Linked DNA regions of Homo sapiens: regions 2 and 3 are each linked to region 1. Evidence: fine-mapped expression QTL. A gene starts in region 1. Each other region holds a variant in brackets. All regions are shown on one strand. Distances are between the middles of the regions.

Evidence for each region. PIP is the estimated chance that this variant, and not a neighbour inherited with it, causes the effect. A credible set is the group of variants that fine-mapping cannot tell apart.
Region 2: its variant is the best candidate, but not a certain one, in a credible set for the expression of GRK4 in ovary (GTEx, PIP 0.52).
Region 3: its variant is the best candidate, but not a certain one, in a credible set for the expression of GRK4 in testis (GTEx, PIP 0.52).

Annotation. Positions count from the first base shown.
Region 1 is chr4:2,960,503-2,966,781 of GRCh38, reverse strand. It overlaps GRK4 (G protein-coupled receptor kinase 4), which reads right to left and starts at 3,211. Exons shown (of 16, transcript NM_182982.3): 1 at 2,660-3,211. The coding sequence starts at 2,711. It overlaps NOP14 (NOP14 nucleolar protein), which reads left to right and starts at 3,376. Exons shown (of 18, transcript NM_001291978.2): 1 at 3,376-3,657. The coding sequence starts at 3,463. RefSeq lists silencers at 2,539-2,588, 2,759-3,188 and enhancers at 2,651-3,184, 3,185-3,718, 4,749-4,818.
Region 2 is chr4:3,310,836-3,317,114 of GRCh38, reverse strand. It overlaps RGS12 (regulator of G protein signaling 12), which reads right to left. Exons shown (of 18, transcript NM_001394154.1): 2 at 1-1,045. The coding sequence starts at 944. It also overlaps the pseudogene LOC100286945. Among named protein-coding and RNA genes, the nearest start is that of RGS12, 21 kb to the right of the region's middle. The variant G/A (reference allele first, on the strand shown) is at 2,483.
Region 3 is chr4:3,026,185-3,032,463 of GRCh38, reverse strand. It overlaps GRK4 (G protein-coupled receptor kinase 4), which reads right to left. Exons shown (of 16, transcript NM_182982.3): 11 at 4,463-4,552; 12 at 3,055-3,263. Among named protein-coding and RNA genes, the nearest start is that of HTT, 45 kb to the left of the region's middle. The variant G/T (reference allele first, on the strand shown) is at 3,394.

The DNA.
Region 1 (6,279 bases):
CGTTCATTCATTTCAAAGGTTAATTTTCTAGTATATGAGCCAGTGAAGCTAAACAAGGAGCTGTCCATGAAGTTATGTGTCCAAGAAGACACCTCCTGGTACTTCCTGGGAGATACTTTAAAGTAACAAACACAGTCATCAACTTGGGAAAAAGCCCTAAATTATAACCAATACTCAGCATGTATCCATGTATATCTAATATTATATATTCAACTTCTCTAACCATTAATCAAGCTATACATAATGATGCTTTCTGACCACAGGAGCAAATACTCTCACTCAATGGGGACAGGCCTCATAATCACACTACTGTGGAGTTAATATGAGATATTTCAGGGAAAAAATTAAAACTTTCTTTTTTTTTTTTTTCGAGACGGAGTCTCGCTCTGTCACCCAGGCTGGAGTGCCGTGGCGCGATCTCGGCTCACTGCAAGCTCTGCCTCCAGGGTTCACGCCATTCTCCTGCCTCAGCCTCCCATGTAGCTGGGACTACAGGCGCCCGCCACCACGCCCGGCTAATTTTTGTATTTTTAGTAGAGACGGGGTTTCACCATGTTAGCCAGGATGGTCTCAATCTCCTGACCTTGTGATCCGCCCGCCTCGGCCTCCAAAAGTGCTGGGATTACAGCTGTGAGCCACCGTGCCCGGCCAAAACTTTCATTTTTCAAACTATCACTGTGGTCTTAGGTTTTGTGACAGAATCTGGTTTTATGTTATTTAGCATTTATAGAGCACTTGTATTTATCTCATTATCTAATCTCTGCAGCATTATAAGGAAGGCGGCTTGGTATAGTTCCTTTTTGTAAATTACATGCAGATAGGAAGGTAGTGTAAAAAGAAAACTGGCTTAGCTTCAATCTGACTTCCACTAAGGATGATTATTTTCCATGACCTATTTGGAGTTCACAGTCAGGGATAAGAGGCACAGTCAAATGCTCCACTGAAAATGGCTGCTGAGAACGCATACTGCTCTGGGACTCCCTGATTATCTTAAGGGAAAAAGATCCCATTCTCTTCCCACCCATTCTCAGTTCTTCTATTCAAAATAGTGTGAGTTGGTGCACAAAAATACTGAGAAGATGAAGTCTTTGTTTTAGACTTTTTTAAAGAGATGGTCTTGCTGTGTTTTGCCCAGGCTGGACTCTCCTGGGCCCAAGTGAGCCTTCCACCTCAGCTTCCAGAGTAGCTGGGACTACAAGCGTGGCCGCCACCTTCGGCTCCAGACTGTCCTTTAAATATGCATCGCCGGCTGCTGTGGCATCTTCAGTCGGCATTTACACTGTCCTGGAGCACAGTCCGAGCAGAGCTGCTCCATCACGCAAGGAAATAGAGGAAATCAGCAATTCCGTAAGAGTGACGGGGTGTGAAGAACTACCGTGGCTAGCACAGGGACTTGAGGTCCGAGGCTCTGTCGCCAGCTCTCTTGAGACGCAGGCAAGGGAGACATGAGGTCCGAGACAGAGGATTGCACAGAGGATTGTGGGGGTCTCCCGCTGAAGGGCTGGACCAACTGATGCTTTTGTGGCGGGATGCAGAGGACTAGAGAGACCAGCATGGGTGAAAACAGGAGGATATTTATGTTAAGGTACGCACCAGCTCAGTGGATTCACATCCAAAAAGCTGAGCCTTGAACAAAGACTAAGCAGGATTTTTATAAGCAAACTTACAGAAGCAAAACAAAGGCAGTTAATCATATAATGACAGGTCACATAATCTATAGCATAACTGATGACTTGGCATAACTTGTGGCCTTGCATAGCTGGTGGCCTTGTAGCTGCGTTGAAAGAAAAAACCAAGAACTGGCTAAACACAGATATTTGTCCTCTTTTTTTTTTTTCTTCACCCCTGCTCTGGAAGGGGGGTGTCTGGAGCCTATTCCTTTGGATTCGACTTCTCAAACAGAACAGCGTTATCTTATAACTGTCCTTAAAGTGAGCTTGCTAAGCAAAAGAAAACTTGTTCTTCTTTTCTTTTTAACCCTTGCCTTGCCACATTCTGGGCCTTGGCTTTTTCTTTTCTTGGAGTGAATGAATGCAGTACTTATTACTATTTTTAAATTTCTGCCTCACTTTAATAATGATAAAAGGCTGAATTTTTGCCAACTTGTCCATCTGTGACCACGTCGTGCTAAAGCACACTTGACACACCATAGAGCCTCAGATCAAACCTCAAAACCAAGCAGCTATGTTAAAAATAACATTGCCCTACAATCATTATCGGAAGGTTCTCGCCCAGAGTAGTTCCCAGGCTGCTATTCTTTGTCCCCCTTAAGACCATAAAGACGCCGTTCTTTTTTGGTGGGACAGGTTGTCCAACACAAGCAGGACACTGCCTGCCGCATCCTGAAGCAACACTGTCACCGAGGTCACACCGAGAGGACAGGACAAGGACACAGGGCAAGACTAAGAAGAGCAAAGCGCAGACTTCTCTCATCTGGGCCAGGAGATGGGGACTGGGACCTGGCCCGGGCAGCCTGACCACACTGCACAGACCCCGGCTCCGGCTCCGTGCAGATCTGGGTTCCCCCAGTGGGAGGTGTCGGGGCTCTCCAGGGAAATCGGGGTTCTCCGGGGATGTCGGGTTCCTTCAGGGGGGCCAGGGTTCCCCGGGATTCGGGGTTCTCTGGGGGGGGGGTCGGGGGCGCCTGCCGCGCACCCACCTTGACGCGCTTTCAGCAGCAGCGAGTTGGCCACGATGTTCTCGAGCTCCATGTCCTGGCGCCGCCGCCGCCGGCGGATTCTGCGAGACCGAGGAGACTGAGGAGGCGGAACAGGAGGAGACGCCGCCGCCCCCGTGCATAGCTCGCCGGGCACCACCCTCTCCTCGAGCTCCGGACACGATCCCGGGAGGCTGCTCCGCCGCCACCACTGCCACCAAGGGCGCCGCCGCCGCCGCCTCCGCAGGCCCTCACCAGCAGGGGAGCGGTCGGGGCGAGGGGAGGGGGCAGCCCGACCGCGGCGGGTCCCAGCTGTCACCGCTGCCGCGCTATCGCCCCGGTTCTTCTTGGCCCCATCGCCCTCGCCTCGCGCGCGCAACTCCCTCCTCAGTGCCCTGCCCCCGGGCAGCCCCGAGTCAATGCCGTGGCTCACTTCGGACAGGGGCTCACTGGCAGGGGCGCCCGCCGCGGCCGGCGACCCGCTCCCGGGCGGGCTCGGCGCTAACGGCTTAGCTGAAGAGGGAGCGCCCCTCGCCGCCGCGGCCGGGGCACTACAGCTCCCAGAAGGCCCTGCGCCAAGAGTACACGGCGGGCCGCGGCGCGTGGCCTGCTGGGAGTTGTAGTCGCTGAGCCTATCGGCGAGTAAGCCGAGCCTGCGGGCGCGGTGTTTACTTCTCGCGAGTCGGAGGTGCTGCGCTGTTCTCGCGAGACGAGGAAGCGGTTCCGCGGCCCGGCACGTGTCTTAGGGTAGCGCGCGCCTGTCTCTCTTCGGGTCTCGGGCCCTTGGGCGCAGCGGGGCGCGCGCCATGGCGAAGGCGAAGAAGGTCGGGGCGCGAAGGAAGGCCTCCGGGGCGCCGGCGGGAGCGCGAGGGGGCCCGGCGAAGGCCAACTCCAATCCGTTCGAGGTGAAAGTTAACAGGCAGAAGTTCCAGATCCTGGGCCGGAAGACGCGCCACGACGTGGGACTGCCCGGGGTGTCTCGCGCACGGGCCCTCAGGAAGGTAAGCGGGGGGCGCACGGGGAGCCGGAAGGCAGGATCTGGACCCCACGCTGCTCTCGGCCGGCTGCGTCCTTCTCGGTGCGTCGGTTTCCTCGTTGAGCGGCACAGGCCGTGACAGGCACACGGCACTGACTTGATAGTCCGAAAGCCTCTGCTGTTCTCTGAGCTGGAGTGACCTGGAAACTCTCGCCGTCTTGGAGACCCTGCACTCGTGTTATTTCGGCGACTCCTCCAACCGGGTCAGGCCGAGTCAGTCACTTCGGGCGGCGCCCTGGACCAAGCTGCTTGTTAACCCTTCCGCGTTTACTTTGAGCTCTGCAGGTTTGGGGACGGTGGATAGGGGCTGTGTAGGATGCTGCGTTTGATGTTTCATCGGCTCTCTCCCGAAGCGCGTAACCTTGTTCCTTGGGAAGTAACTCTATGGAAACTCATTGCTTCCTAGTTTTTTTAACTTTTTTTTTTTTAAATTTTCACTGAGGAACATACATTAGCAGGTTGGTGAAAAAATTAAGGCACAGAAAGGACAAGTGCATTTCCTAAGGTCACGCACCTGGTAAGGGCTGGGCATGCATTCACATTTCAATATCTACAAAGCCTTCTTGCTACCCCGAGCGCTTCTGTTTGACCTCGCTTCTAGGTTCGGGGAGATAAAGGTAAATAAGACTTGCCCTTGCCTTCATGAGCTCCTGATCTCTGTTCATCACAGTGTGCAAGCTGGATGGTCTTTGAATCAAAACACATATTATCCTTACTGCGCGAAGACGACAGCCTGTATAATGAATAGGCAAGATAGACTTACAGCTGACTTCGATAGGAGTCCCTCATTACACACCCCCGGGCCGGGGTGGGAGAATAAGGTAGTGTGGTTCCCTAGAAGAGACACATTTGTCTTCACCACTGAAGCCTCAGTTTTCTCATTTCAAAAGTAGAGATGATAGTATACATCCTACCCCTCGTGGTGGTTTGTGAGAATTAAGTAAGATAGCACATAGAGCACACAGCAAGTGTTCTCTAAATACTGTTATTCTTAACCTTCTTGGCTTGTCGTTCGAGTCCCGCACAGTCTGGCTGTTGTCCTTGCTTCGCCTCTTGCAACTCAGTTTGTCCAAAAGGTCTGCCTTACCTCCGAAAGTCTCTAAAGGGCCAGCTCAGGTTCACCACCCAAGCTATGTAACCCAAATAGGACAGGTTGCTCAAACTTCTGGTATTGAGCAGATCCACCTCCCTGCCCTGTGCTGAAGGCCTGGGACGGGGACGGGAATTGCTGCTCCTTTTTGGATCTCCAATGCTTGGCCCTTGGAAGAAACACAAATATTTGAAGAAATCAAAGATGGAACCTGAGTGCCTTAGGAGATCCCGGTCAGGAAAAAGTGTAATAGTTAGGAAAGTCCAAAAATTCTTCTAGAGGGAGTTACAGTCAAGTTTTGCAAGGGGAGTGAGCTGTTCATGGGCCCAGGGTGGGCAGAGGACACACATGCAAAGGCACATTGTCCCGGTATGGTGAAGTGTGGCACTCACAGCTGTCTGAGGGACAGCAGGTCGTCCAGTTGACTCCAAGCTTGATAACGCGTGTAGGGGCCGTGAGGCCGGCGCAGGAGGCCTGGGTCTTTTCATGTGGGTTAGTCCCTTAGAAGTAAACAGGCTGCCTCAGTTGGCTTCTCCCCTCTGGTCAGTTGTAGCACTCTGAGGCACTCAGTCTGGCAGGAAGAGGGCAGCCCCCAGGTGCCAGTCTCAGGACATTGCTTTATAGCTGTGCCTCAGTTTCCTTATTTCTGAAATAATTTATAAAATAAGTTATATTAATGTAGTTCTTAAATCAGTAACTATATTAATATAGTTACTATATATTAATATACTAACTATATTATTAATATAGTTACTATATATTAATATACTAACAATATTAATATATTAATATATTATTATAATATTAGCATATTAATATATTATTGTAATAGCATATTAATATATTATTATATTAGTATATTAATATATTATTATAATATTAATATATTATTAAAATATTAATATATTATTATAATATTAATATAGTATTAATATAATATTGATGTAGTATTAATATAATATTGATATAATATTAATATAATAATATTGATATAATATTAAAATAATATCGATATAATATTAATATAATATTGATATAATATTAATATAATAATATTGATATAATATTAAAATAATATCGATATAATATTAATATAATATTGATATAATAATATAATAATAATGTAATTATAATATTAATATATTGATAATGTGATTATAATATTAATATATTGATAATGTGATTATAATATTAATATATTAATATTAATGTGATTATAATATTAATATATTAATATTAATGTGATTATAATATTAATATATTAATATTAATGTGATTATAATATTAATATATTAATATTAATGTGATTATAATATTAATATAATATTAATATAATAATATATAGTAACTATATTAATAATATAGTTACTGGTCCCTTACAGTTGGTCAGGCCTTGTGCCACACGGTTTACATTTAATCCTCACCGTTATGAGGGGGAAGTACTGTTATCCCCATTTTATGCCGTAAATTCCATATGATGTCACAACATCTATATAG
Region 2 (6,279 bases), 350 kb before region 1:
ACCAACCCGAAAAATCGCCGGTCGTCCGGGCACACGGCGCTGAAGGCCAGCTTCTCGGCCGGGTACTCGGCCACGACTCCAGCCTTGTCAGTGCTCAGCTGCACACAGTCGTGCATGATCTTCATGGTCACCAGCGAGTGGATTTTCTGCTCTGCCCGCAGGCGCCGCATGCAGCCGCGGATGGCTTGCAAGCTGTCGGACTCCAGGTTGGAGCTCGTGGAAGGAAGCTCAATGGAGCCTAAGTAGCCCACGATCATCGCCACGTTTAAAATACTTGCATCCAATGCAAAATCGTCATGACTTTCTAGTCCAATGCTGAAAACCGAATCATCATGAATAACTTTTGATATTTCCTCCTTAGAAAGCATGTTGGGATTTGGATTATTTATACTTTCATGTCCAACATCAAATCGAGTTGCGGCCGACTCTGAAAGGGATCTTTGTTTCAATTTCAAGGGCTCTGAATTGCTCGCACAAAGGCTCGGGTTTTCAAAAATCATATTGAAAATTCCACCAGACTGCATTTCCTCCACGACTCGCTCTGCTCTGTTTATACCTAGTGCTTTAGAATCCAGCTTGGGCTTCAGCCAGCCTTTTCCTTCATAGAGTCCCCCTTCTTCATCACTGGAACAGGATTCGAAGCGGCCGACGCCTTCAGCAATCACCATGTGAAGGACACCAGAGCACTTCCCAATTAATTTCACTACATCTTCATGAGATGCTTTTTTCACGTTGATTTCATTGACAGCAAGTATCTGGTCTCCAGCTCGGAGGCCCACGAAATCCGCAGGGCTCCCTCTCATGACGCAGCTGAGCACACAGGGTGCCTGTCCCGAAAGCGTGAATCCGTAGCCGGCCCTCCCCCGGGCAACCTCCACACTCCGCACCCTTGGGGGCGACGGCCCAGGCAATGGGCGTTTGGAGGCCTCCCCAGCTCTAAACATTCTGATGAGCTTCCAAGACCAAGAGCACGTCTCATTGTTCCCTTGGAGCCATATTTCAAGGAATGCTTGATGCTACCATGTTTGCTTCTTCAAACAGTGCCCTAAGAAAGAAAAACGAACAGCTCATTATTAAAGAGCCCATCTTTCTCCACCACTCACTGGTATTAGCTAAACACAAAAAGATAATTCATAATAAAAACCACCACAGAAAGAGCCTCTAAGTGTCTATAGATAATAAATCTTCAAGTCAGGCTAAGAAACTTCCTTTCGGAGTAGAAAATGTCTCCCACAACTGCTACCTTGTTACCACACAAGTTCCTGCCAGGCCCACCTGCCACGGGTGTGAGGATGCAGGACTGCTTCCCAGCACTGCTTCCACACCCTGTTTGGATGGAAAGAGCCCCTTGCTACTCAAAGTGTGGTCCGTGGACTGGCAGCCCGTCTGAAAGGCAGACTCTCGGGCTCCACACAGAAGAAACACACCCAAACCCACGTTTCACAGGATGGCAGAGTCCAAGCGTGAGAAGCAAGGCCTGCTACAGGCTTCAGGTTCAAAGGCACCTGCAGAACACTGAGTCTAACCCCTTAGTTGATCATAAATCCCCTGACATAGAGTTTTCCCTCAGGAGAGGGGTCACCTAATATTCCATGACCCTCCCACATTAATTTATTTTGAATATACTGTGTGGGGGAAAACGTATTAGCCTGAAACAACCTCGATCAATACTGCAGAGGCCACTCAACAGGCTAGATAAAAACCACCACCTAAAAAAGCAGAAATGTCATATTAACTCAATTCTTCCAGGGGGTATAAAAGTATTGGTTGTCATTGAGAACAAACTTGTCAGTGGTCCGCGGATCACCCCCAGGCCAGTGATTCCCTAGGATTCCCAGGACTTGGCACAAAGGTGCTCTCACAGCTGAGATTCATTACAGCGAAAGGATTCCACACAAAATCAGCAAGGGCAGAGGTCCATGGGGCGATGTCCCAAAGAAACCAGGCTTGAGCTTCCAGAATCCTCTCCCAGCGGGGTCACGCAGGACGCACTTAACTCCCTACACAGTGAGCCGTGACAACGCATGTGCAGTGTCGTCACCAGGGAAGCCCACTAGAGACTCGGTGCCAGGGTTTTTACTGGGGGCTGGGCACATGGGCACCCTCTGCCTGCTTCGTGCCCAGACTCTGGACTCCCAGAAGAAAGGAAGGTTCTCAGCACAAACCTTGTTCCCCACACAAGCAGCTAAGCACAGGGAGCCCCTCTTCATTGAGGGTGGTGGGCACCGTCCTGACACCAGCGGGGGGCCAGCCTTGCACACAGGCCTCTCAGGATGGTCTCGGGCCTGCTGTGTAGTCTCTTCTGCAAGACTCTTTAAAGATCACTTTAAAAAGCAATACAGTAAGTGATTGTGTTGTGAAGACACAAAATAGAATAGAGGGTATGTTTTTTTAAAGAAATAATTGTTTTAGGCCAGGTGCGGTGGCTCACGCCTATAATCCCAGCGCTTTGGGAGGCCGAGGCAGGTGGACCACGAGGTCA[G/A]GAGATCAAGACCATCCTGGCTAACACGGTGAAACCTTGTCTCTACCAAAAATACAAAAAAAATTAGCTGGGCATGGTGGCGGACGCCCGTAGTCCCAGCTACTCGGGAGGCTGAGGCAGGAGAATGGCATGAACTCGGGAGGTGGAGCTTGCAGTGAGCCGAGATCGTGCCACTGCACTCCAGCCTGGGTGACAAAGCGAGACTCTGTCTCAAAAAATAAAATAAAATAAAATAAATAATTGTTTTAAAGTTAATAACTTCTAATAGAAAAGATTTTTGTGTCTTGGGATAAAGTTTCCAGCAATAGGATCATAAACAGATTTGAAGTAATTTACACACATAAAAGCTACAGAACTAGATAGAGTGGAAAGGCTATTACTAGGTGACTCCAAAAGTGGCTTCAGTGATGACAAAACACGGACACAGAACATGCGTACTTAGTAAAATTATGTTTTGATGGAAAAGAGTAAAAAATGAATATAAATTACATTACTCAATATCTAAGTAGTACTGTATTAATAATTTAAATATTAGGACTGGGCATTTAACTATTTAAAATCATTAAAAAATGAATTTAAAAAATAAAATAATTAAAATTATTTTATAATTTTTTAATAATTAAAAATTATTAAAAATCATCATTAAAAAATAAATAAATAAATGTAAAAGTTGGCCAAGAAACACGTCTGGGGATCGATCTTCTTAAGAGGTGTGACAGGCTGGCTGATGGCCCCTGATACACCCACATCCTCACTCCCAAGCTTTTGGATGGCTCCTCCCATCCACGTGACCACGTGAAGGCTCTAGAGATGGGGAGAGTGTGGGGTGCGCCTGTGTGAGCCTGGGGTCAGAGCCAGAGGGGACGGCCACATGAGGAAGGATGCGGAGACTGCAGGGATTCAAGGATGGGTCTCGAGCCCAGGCAGACGGGCAGGCGGTCACCTCCAGAAGCCGGAAAGGTGAAGGAAGCAGACTTAAAGTCACCAGAGGAACCAGCTCTGCCACACCTGCCATCAGCCAGGTCACACTGACTGCAGACACGAGGCCCCCGAAAACGCAGGAGAATGAATGTGTGTTGTCTTAAGCCCCCCAGTTTGCAGTAATTTCTTTCAGCAACCCCAGGAAACAAATACAAGGGGGAATCACTTTGTCACGGGTGAGGGGAGAGGGAAAGCAGGACATGCGTGAAACGGTCTCACTAAAGCACGCTCAGAAAAGCATCTGTCACACAACAAAGGTGCTGCTGTTCCCGGCAAGTGCCAGCTATCACTGTGAACAGCCCCAGGACAGCAGGTCATGAAGCCTTGATGGCTTCCTCGGGGAACAGAACACCTCTCGGCTTTCTCTTCCAAACAGGAATAGATGCTGCCTCAATGAAAGACATGACTTCCCAGTTTATTCGCACCATCCGCCTCACACTGTGTGACATAATGATGGACAATGTCTTCTATGCAGTCCACCCAATTTTTCTACTAGACTCTTACTGTCATGGGCCTCTGCTTATTAAAAAGAAATGGTTTGTAACTCATGTAAGTAATATCTTATTATCTATAATCACGTTTCTTTGTTTTTATTTTTTAGAGACAGGGTCTCACTCCATTGCCCAGACTGGAGTGCAGTGGCACAGTCATTGCTCGGTGCAGCCTCAAACTCACTCCTGGGCTCAAGCCATACCAAGCACACCCCCATACTCGGCTAACTATTTTTTTTTTTTTGGAGAAAACTGTATTGAGATATTTTAAGTCACGTATCTAATATAAAACCAGTTTGCATTGTTTCAGCTTGTCTTCCTTGGAACCTGTGGTTGCCCTTCACCTCCTTCTGGCAATTTAAATTGCTCTGATTTCGGCAGAATATTCCCCGGACATCAGGACCATCTCCACATTCATCCCAGTCTTTGAGACAGCTCCCGGAGATCAGCTTCCTGGTCAAGCACAAGAATCTCAGCAGCACCGTGATCTTCCTCTCTCTCCTGGCCAGGTAAGACCCCGACTTTCAGGTGGTGGTTCCTCTTGCTGAGGCTGCTCATCACTGGGCTCAAGCACAGGCCCAGTTAGCTCAGGAGGCTGCACATACCGTCTTGGTCTAAGCCTACATGCTGATCTTCCTTGCCAACTCATATTTCAAACGGCTGCTTCTCAGTAGTGGGTAAAGAGTCCAGAACGCAGGAACGCAACCCTCACACCCTCACAGGTCCACAGTGTTCACCACGTGGGCAAAGGGGCCAAGGAGAAGACACCCAGTGAACCTTGGCTAATGTTTTAATTTTTCTGTAGACGAGGTCTCACTATGTTGCCCAGACTAGTCTCAAACTTCTGACCTCAAGCAATCCTCCCACCTTGGCCTCCCAAAATAATCACATAAGTTCAGCTTATAGTTTAATTTTTTTTAAAACTGTATCAATTAATAGTAAAGCTAGCAGAACAGACAGTGAAATTTAGAAGACCATGGGGTACTGGATTCCAGCTGAACTTCCATTACACCATCGGGGCTACCAGTAAGAACGCCTGCTCCCAAGCCCCTGCACCTCCCAGGGACTCTGACTTAGTAAGTCTGGGGCAAGGCCAGGAAGCTCCAACTTCCCCCTACACACCTTCCAGCTAACTCTGAATCACCTTGACTGGAGATCATTTAACCCAGCCTCTTCACTGTGTGGAAAAGGGAACAAGGTCCAGCCAGAAGTAATTCATCCAAGCCCTGAGGCACAGATGGGATGTGACACGAAGGTCCCCACTCGCCGCACAGCACTGCCACCTCCCATCAGGAGTCACCGACCACGTCACACAGGCTGAGTGTCCCTTAGAAGAGATTTTTGGGACCAGAAGGGCTGTGGATTTTTTCTGATTCGGAACATCTGTATATACGTAATGAGATATGTTTGGATAGGACCCAGGTCTGAACAGGAAATTCATTTATGTTTCATATACACCTTATACACACAGCCTGAGGGTAATTTTGTGCGGTACTTTTGATAATTTTGTGCATGAAACAAGGTTTGTGTACACTGACCCATGAGAAAGCAAAGGTGTCACTAGCTCAGCTATGCCTGAGGTGCCACATCGGTGTCAGAGGGTTTCCGATTCTGGAGCATCTGGATAAGGGATGCTCAACCCGCACTGTCACTCCTTCACTCATTCATCATTAAAAACTCATGGTGTAAAGAGGACAATAAAACAAAACAAAGAAAAAAAACTCAGGGTGATCTAGAAATAAATATTGCTGCCATGACACTTTTCTATTCCCTTCTAAAGTTAAAACCTCCTATAAAAGGTCCTGTTCTGATAAACTCCTCCACTCATGCCGGGCAGCACCCAAGACCTGCAGGTACAGAGATGGGTCCTAGGCCTGAGCTACGATGCAGCAGGCCCCGAGCGAGGCAGGGCTGGAAAGACCAAGCCAGCACCCGTCCGCACTGCCCGTGCACACAGTGTGAGGCGAGAGAGACGCCGTCCTCCGAAGGCAGAGAGAGTCTGGGGGCACCGAGAAGAAGAGAGCAAGGCACAAGAACAGCACAACATCAGCAATCACGGCCTCCAGGGTGACCCCACGGGCTGCAATGGCAGCCGCCACGGCCAGGACTTGCTGTGCAGCGCATGTCATCCTAAACACCATCATCGCTCTGAGGAAGGCTCTGTTACAATTCTCGCGTGCAGATGAGGGAGTGGGGGCACAGAGAAGCTAAGTAACTTGTCTACCAGCACACAGCCAATTAACGGCAAAGGTGGATTTGAACCCAGGCTATTCTTGGCTTACCCACACTTACGTGGATGCACAGAGGAAGGGCCTGAGACAGCAA
Region 3 (6,279 bases), 66 kb before region 1:
ACAAGTATGCATTCTGCTTTTTCTTTTCTTTTTTCTTTTTTGAGACGGAGTCATGCTCTGTCGCCAGGCTGGAGTGCAGTGGCACAGCCTTCCGAGTACCTGGGATTACAGGCGCCCACCACCGCACCTGGCTAATTTTTTTTTTAGTAGAGATAGGATTTCACCATCTTGGCCAGGCTGGTCTCAAACTCCTGACCTCATGATCCACCTGCCTTGACCTCCCAAAGTGCTGGGATTATAGCATGAGCCACCGCACCCGGCCCATTCTGCTTTTTCACTGCAGTCATTTCTGTTTGTTTTAGGCCTAACATTAAACTGTGAGCTCTTAGGGGCAGACTCCATTTCTGGTACATATTTATACATTCTTGCAGCCCTGTCAGTGTCCTGTGGGAGGAAGACTCCATTATTTAACAGTCAGCTCTAAGCAGAGTGAGGTAGCCGGGAGAACTCCAGGCTGACCCCTGGCTCCAGGACGAGCCTGTAGCACCCATGGCTTCATATATGGAAACACATGAAAAGGACATCAGAATAACTCCTCTCCAGCCACTGCCAGCCCATGTCAGTTACCCAGGCACAGCTGCTAGGAATGCCCACACCCAGGCAGGGGCCTATGCCTGGCTGCTTGGTCCTGTGGCCTTCTCTTCTCCAGTGACTTCATCCTCCATCCCCCCAGTGACCCCCAGCCACTCTCTCCCTGGTCACACCCCAGACTCTTGGCCAGCAAGCACTCTGTCAGCTCCACTCCAAGCAGCTTCCTCTCTGAGCGTCCCTCTCATCTTTCTAACTCTGGCCTGGAGGTGTATGGACTCCCAACTTGGACCATGCTTTGCCCATCCTGTTGAACCTGCCGTTCCCTGTGTCCATTTCCTCGTCCACTGGAGCCAGCGTCGAGCCCATGGTCTGTCCTCTAGTCACTCCCTGGCATGCAGCCCAGCTCCCCGGCCTCTCTCTAGCTGCTGGACAAACCAGAGCTGGGCGAGTGCAGCTCCCTGCTGGCTCTGAGCCTGCACCGTCCAGGTGTGGCAGAAGCCCAGCACACAACCACGGCCACTCCCCTCCCTTCAGGTCCGCATGGGCTCTTGATGCTGTTGAGGAAACCCCTGCTTTCCAAGCCTTCAAGCCTCCCCTTTCCTCACACCTGCCTCCCACCTTTGCTCCCCACTAGGGGCTGACCATCTGAGAAAAAGAAGCTCCATAAGAGACCGTTCACAGCCCTGCTCACGTCTCCCCAGCTGTGCTGCACTGGCCACAGACTCTGCCTCCTCTCCGGTCACTGGAGGAACTGCCCACACACTCCCCGTGCGCTGGCTGCTGTCCTCCCCACTGCAAGGACTTGGCTCCAGCGAGTGCCCCCTTCCCTCCAGCCCATCTTGGAGTCAGCCTGAAGTCTTCTCCACCACCTGCCTTCAGGATCCATCCTGAATCTGACAGCGGTCATCTGCCATCACTTCTCACACCTGCTCTGCCATCACCGAGGTCTGCGTCACCTTTACTCTCACCTGAATCGCTGCAAAGCCCCCAATGGCCTTCCTCCTCCCTGTCCATTCATTCTCTCCCAGTGGCCGGCAAGCCCAGTCTCATCACATCACTCTTCACAGAGCCCTGCGATGGCTTCATGGCCATCAGAGGAAGCAACACTCAAGGCTTGACAATGATGACAATAACAAGTGACAGGTGGTTCAGCATGGCCTGGGCTTCCTGCTCTCTGTCCCGTCCCCCTCTAACCCCCTCCTGCTCTTGCCAGCAGCCTGCCACTGTGGCCTTGCTATTGCAGACAATCTCTGTCTGCTCTGCCCAGCAGGCCGACCCCCTCTCACCCCCTAGAGCCTGCCGCCCCTCCAGGCAGTTCCCCGTCCTCCAGAGTGCGGGTCCTCCCCACAGCCCACACGTCTATGCATTTGTTCTGTTTCCTGTCAGTTCTCGCTGGCAGGGCGGGGACTTCTGTTCTATTTGCTGCTGTTTCCCCCAATGCCTAGGACGGTGCCTGGAACATACAAGATGCTCAATAAATCCTTGTTGAATGAAAATAAATGAAAAAAAAAATGTGCTAAAAAAATACTGGTTTAAAGTAAGTAACAAAGAGAGTTTCCCTCACTGATTGAGTGTCTGGGCAGTGAGGGGTGGTAACACAGTCCAGTCCCAGAGGCAGATGGACCCTGACAGCCACTGGCTCATTCTGGGACCAGGGACCAGGTCTCCACCGCTTGGGGCTCATCTCCTTGCTGTGACTCGCGGGTGCCACCGTCAGCCTCAGAGGCCCTTAGCACAGTTAAGGAATGGTCTGTCCAGCACCAGGCCCAGAGCCAGGCACACAGAAGGCCCTCAGGTCAGAGTGTCTCTGGGACTACAATCCCTGGCAGGTGGCTAAACCCTTACCCACCTCAAAATACATGAAAGATTGGTTTTATGTCTAACTTCATATAAAATTGGTCAATGAAACAAGGCTTGGCTATTTTCTGAAAACTGAATTAATAACCTTGGTACCACTCTTCCCTTTCAGTAGCATTATTTGAGAAATCAAACCATGAATTTTACTGTGTTTTGCTCCAATCAAAACCCAATTAAGTCATTTCCAGATCATGTCTGGAAACTTTTCTCACTGGCTCTTTTTGTCTGATGAAATCCCAGTGGCAGGAGCATGGGGAAGGAGGCAGGTAGACGTGAGCTTCCTAAGCAAACGTGTCCTCCCTGCTGGGCCAAGAGACAGGTTGACGTGAGCCTCCTGAGCACATGTGTCCTCCCTGCTGGGCCAGGAGGCAGGTGGACCTGAGCCTCCTGAACACGCGTGTCCTCCCTGCTGGGCCAGGAGACAGGTGGACCTGAGCCTCCTGAACACACGTGTCCTCCCTGCTGGGCCAAGACACAGGTGGACCCGAGCCTCCTGAACACGCGTGTCCTCCCTACTGGGCTGCAGGGGCAGGGGCAGGGCCTGGGAGGTGGGTGACCAGGACTTGCTGAAGATGACAGACCAATTTTTTTTGTTATAGCTGCCAGTGAAAACAACTAGAATGAGTGAGAAGTGCCATTTCCCAGCCTCTACAGAGCCTGACTTACCATCCTGCAGATAGATTTGGCATCCTCTGAAAACTTCTCAGAATACTCCTCGGTATCATTCTTGATTCTTTGATCGACCTCCTCCCATTTGACTTTCTCTTTGTATTTTTTGAATGGAGAATGTCCCTGAATCATTTCATAGATCAGACAGCCAAGTCCCCACCAATCGGGACTAAACGTATACTTTTCATTATTGACAACTTCAGGTGCTACATAACAAATACAGGAAATGGAAATTAAGTTAAATTTTGATTTTAAATTTTCTTATAATTCCCAGTAACACAGTATACATTCAACGTGTGTGACAACATGGACGAACCTTAAAAACATTATGTTAAG[G/T]CTGGGAGCGGTGGCTCACACCTATAATCCCAGCATTTTGGGAGGCGAAGGCAGGCAGATCACCTGAGATCAGGAGTTTGAGACCAGCCTGGACAACATGGTGAAACCCTGTCTCTACTAAAAATACAAAAATTAGCCAGGTATGGCGGCAGGCGCCTGTAGTTCCAGATACTCAGGAAGCTGAGGCAGGAGAATCGCTTGTGCCTGGGAGGTGGACGTTGCAGTGAGCCAAGATTGTGCCACTGCATTCTAGCCTGGGCGACTGAGTGAGACTCTGTCTCAAAAAAAAAAAAAAGTTGTGAAATTAGATGGTGGTGATGGTTGCATGACTCTGTGAAAATACTAAAATCCGTTGTATTACACACTTCAAACTGGTGGACTTGATGATATATGAATTATATCCCAATAAAGCTAATATTTTTAAACATTTGTATGATTCATCCAAGATGAGCTGAATTGCCACAGAGTCACATTCACAAGGGAAATGGTGGTCTAGGGAAGGCTCCACCTCCTGAAGGGGCTCCCTCCAGACACACAGAGCCATGCCCAGGGCGCCCCAAGTGTCACGTCTTGCCATCTATCCCAGGGCAGTGAAAAACCCCACAAGACGCAAGAGCGGAAAGCCACAAGACCTTGGGGTCTTCCTGCAGGACTCTGCGAGGCTCTCAGAGGCCACCCCTGGGGGTTGGCTGGCACTGCCCCCGGATCTTTGGAATAACCAGAGTGGGGTGATTTCCTGAGGCTCCGAGAGGCCGTGGTGCACAGGGGAGGACACTGGTAGAGTGAGGAGACCTGCGGTGTCATCCCGATTCTGCCCTCACTTCGCTGAGTGACCTCAGGACTCACAACCTCTCAGGCCTCACCCCTCATCTGTAAGAAGCTGAGGGCAGCCTACAGGATCCCCAGCAGCCTCAACACTCTGACAGGTTAGAGATTCAAAACACCACTGCGCCATCTACTAGTGTGTCCAAACCGAGGCCCCGGTCCATTCAGGGTGGATTTCTCTGTGTTCTGAGGCACTCAGGCACCCGGATAGAAAGGACAAGGACGCCGAAAGCCTCTCACGAACCCATGTAGCCGACTGTTCCAACTCTTCCTCGAACCCTCTGTCCTTCTGGGATCTCTGTGGCCAAACCGAGGTCTGAAATCCGGATGTGTCCTGTGTGTTCAAATATGTTATTACACAGGTCACGGGGGAAGTAATGACACCGTAACAACAATTAAAATGGGAAAAAAGGCCCCTCAAAAACCATGGCTGGAAATAATAGCATTTCATACTCTGGAACAGTAAACGTAAAATGGCATTTAACTTTTTCATGTTTAGTAAAATTCCATACAATGCATTTTCACTAGCAGCAGGAAAATTCGATTTTTGCCTGGCTATTGATCAGGAAGCCCTTTAATCATAGGCCACCACTTGATAAGACAGAAACACTGGATTTATTATTTTATGTCATACAACTTCCAGGTACATCAATAAAAATATAATGAATATTATATCAACTACAGAACAGTAAATAAATACTTTCTGTCAGAGTACCAGTACTATACACAGGGACAGCTACACATGAATGATATGGAGTTATTCTCTTGAGAACAAATGGTAATAGAGTCAGGGAAATAATAAACAAAATTAAGGTACTTAGGGAACTATATTATGTGTTAATGCGTTGAATATAGAAGGATTTAAATATTTGTTGAATTCCTATGGAACTAACAAATTAGGCCAGACACGGTGGTTCACACCTGTAATTCCAGCACTTTGGGAGGCCAAGGTCGGAGGATTACTTGAGTTCCACATTTTGAGACCAGCCTGGGAAACATGACAAGACCCTGTCTCTATAAAAAAAGATTTTTAAAAAAATTAGCTGGGTGTGATGGCACATGGCTATGGTCCCAGCTACTCTGGAGGCTGAGGCAGGAGGATCGCTTAAGCCCAGAAGGTCGAGGCTGCGGTGAACCATGATCACACCACTGCAGGGCAAGAGTGAGAATCTGTCTCAAAAAAATTATAAAGAAAATACGAAATTATCGAAAACATTCTGTTGAGTGTGTAGAAAGATTAGCCAGCCCTGGAAGCGGACACTATCTTCAACTTATTCACCACTTATCCTCAGCTTCTAATATCATACCCTGGCCTACAGTAGGTGCTCAATAAATATTTATTGGTGAAATGAATGAATAACCAATAAATGTTTGCTAAAAACTAAAAATATGCGACATGCCCTCCAAGGCACTGTAGTCATTTTAAAACAGTCTGCATGATGCTTTAGAGAGGAAAGCCGGCCTCTGACTCAGATGCATGCACGTGATACACCACACCCCGCCCTTGCTGCGCGCCCACCCTGGGAGGCGGGAGAGCACAGGGGTGAGGAGCACAGACCCAGCCCGATGGCGTGGGTCTGAGTCCTGGCTCTGCCATGTACTATCATGTCTCAGTTTCCTCCCCTTGTACAGATGCATTCTTTCAATAATCCACATTTCATTTTCTTTTCTTTTCTTTTGTAGAGACAGGGTTTGGTCATGTTGCCCAGGCTGGTCTTGAACTCCTGGGCTCAAGCGATCCTCCCACCCTGGCCTCCCAAAGTGCTGGGATTACAGGCGTGAGCCACCGTGCCTGGCCAGCTTTCGTGTATTTTTCATTTAAGTAGAGTGCTAACATGTTGTGACTTATTTTTTTCGTATCATTGTCTTATTTTTCTTATAAAAATGGATTTTTAAACTGAGAAATGCAACTTAAAACTACACTGAAATACCAATTCCCAGCTAACAAACTGACAAAAACTCCAAAGTTCGAGAACTCGGTCTGCTGGCGAGGCTGTGGGGAAACAGGTGCTCTCGTGCACTGCTGGTGGGAATGCAGACGGGAAACACCCTGGAGCGGAA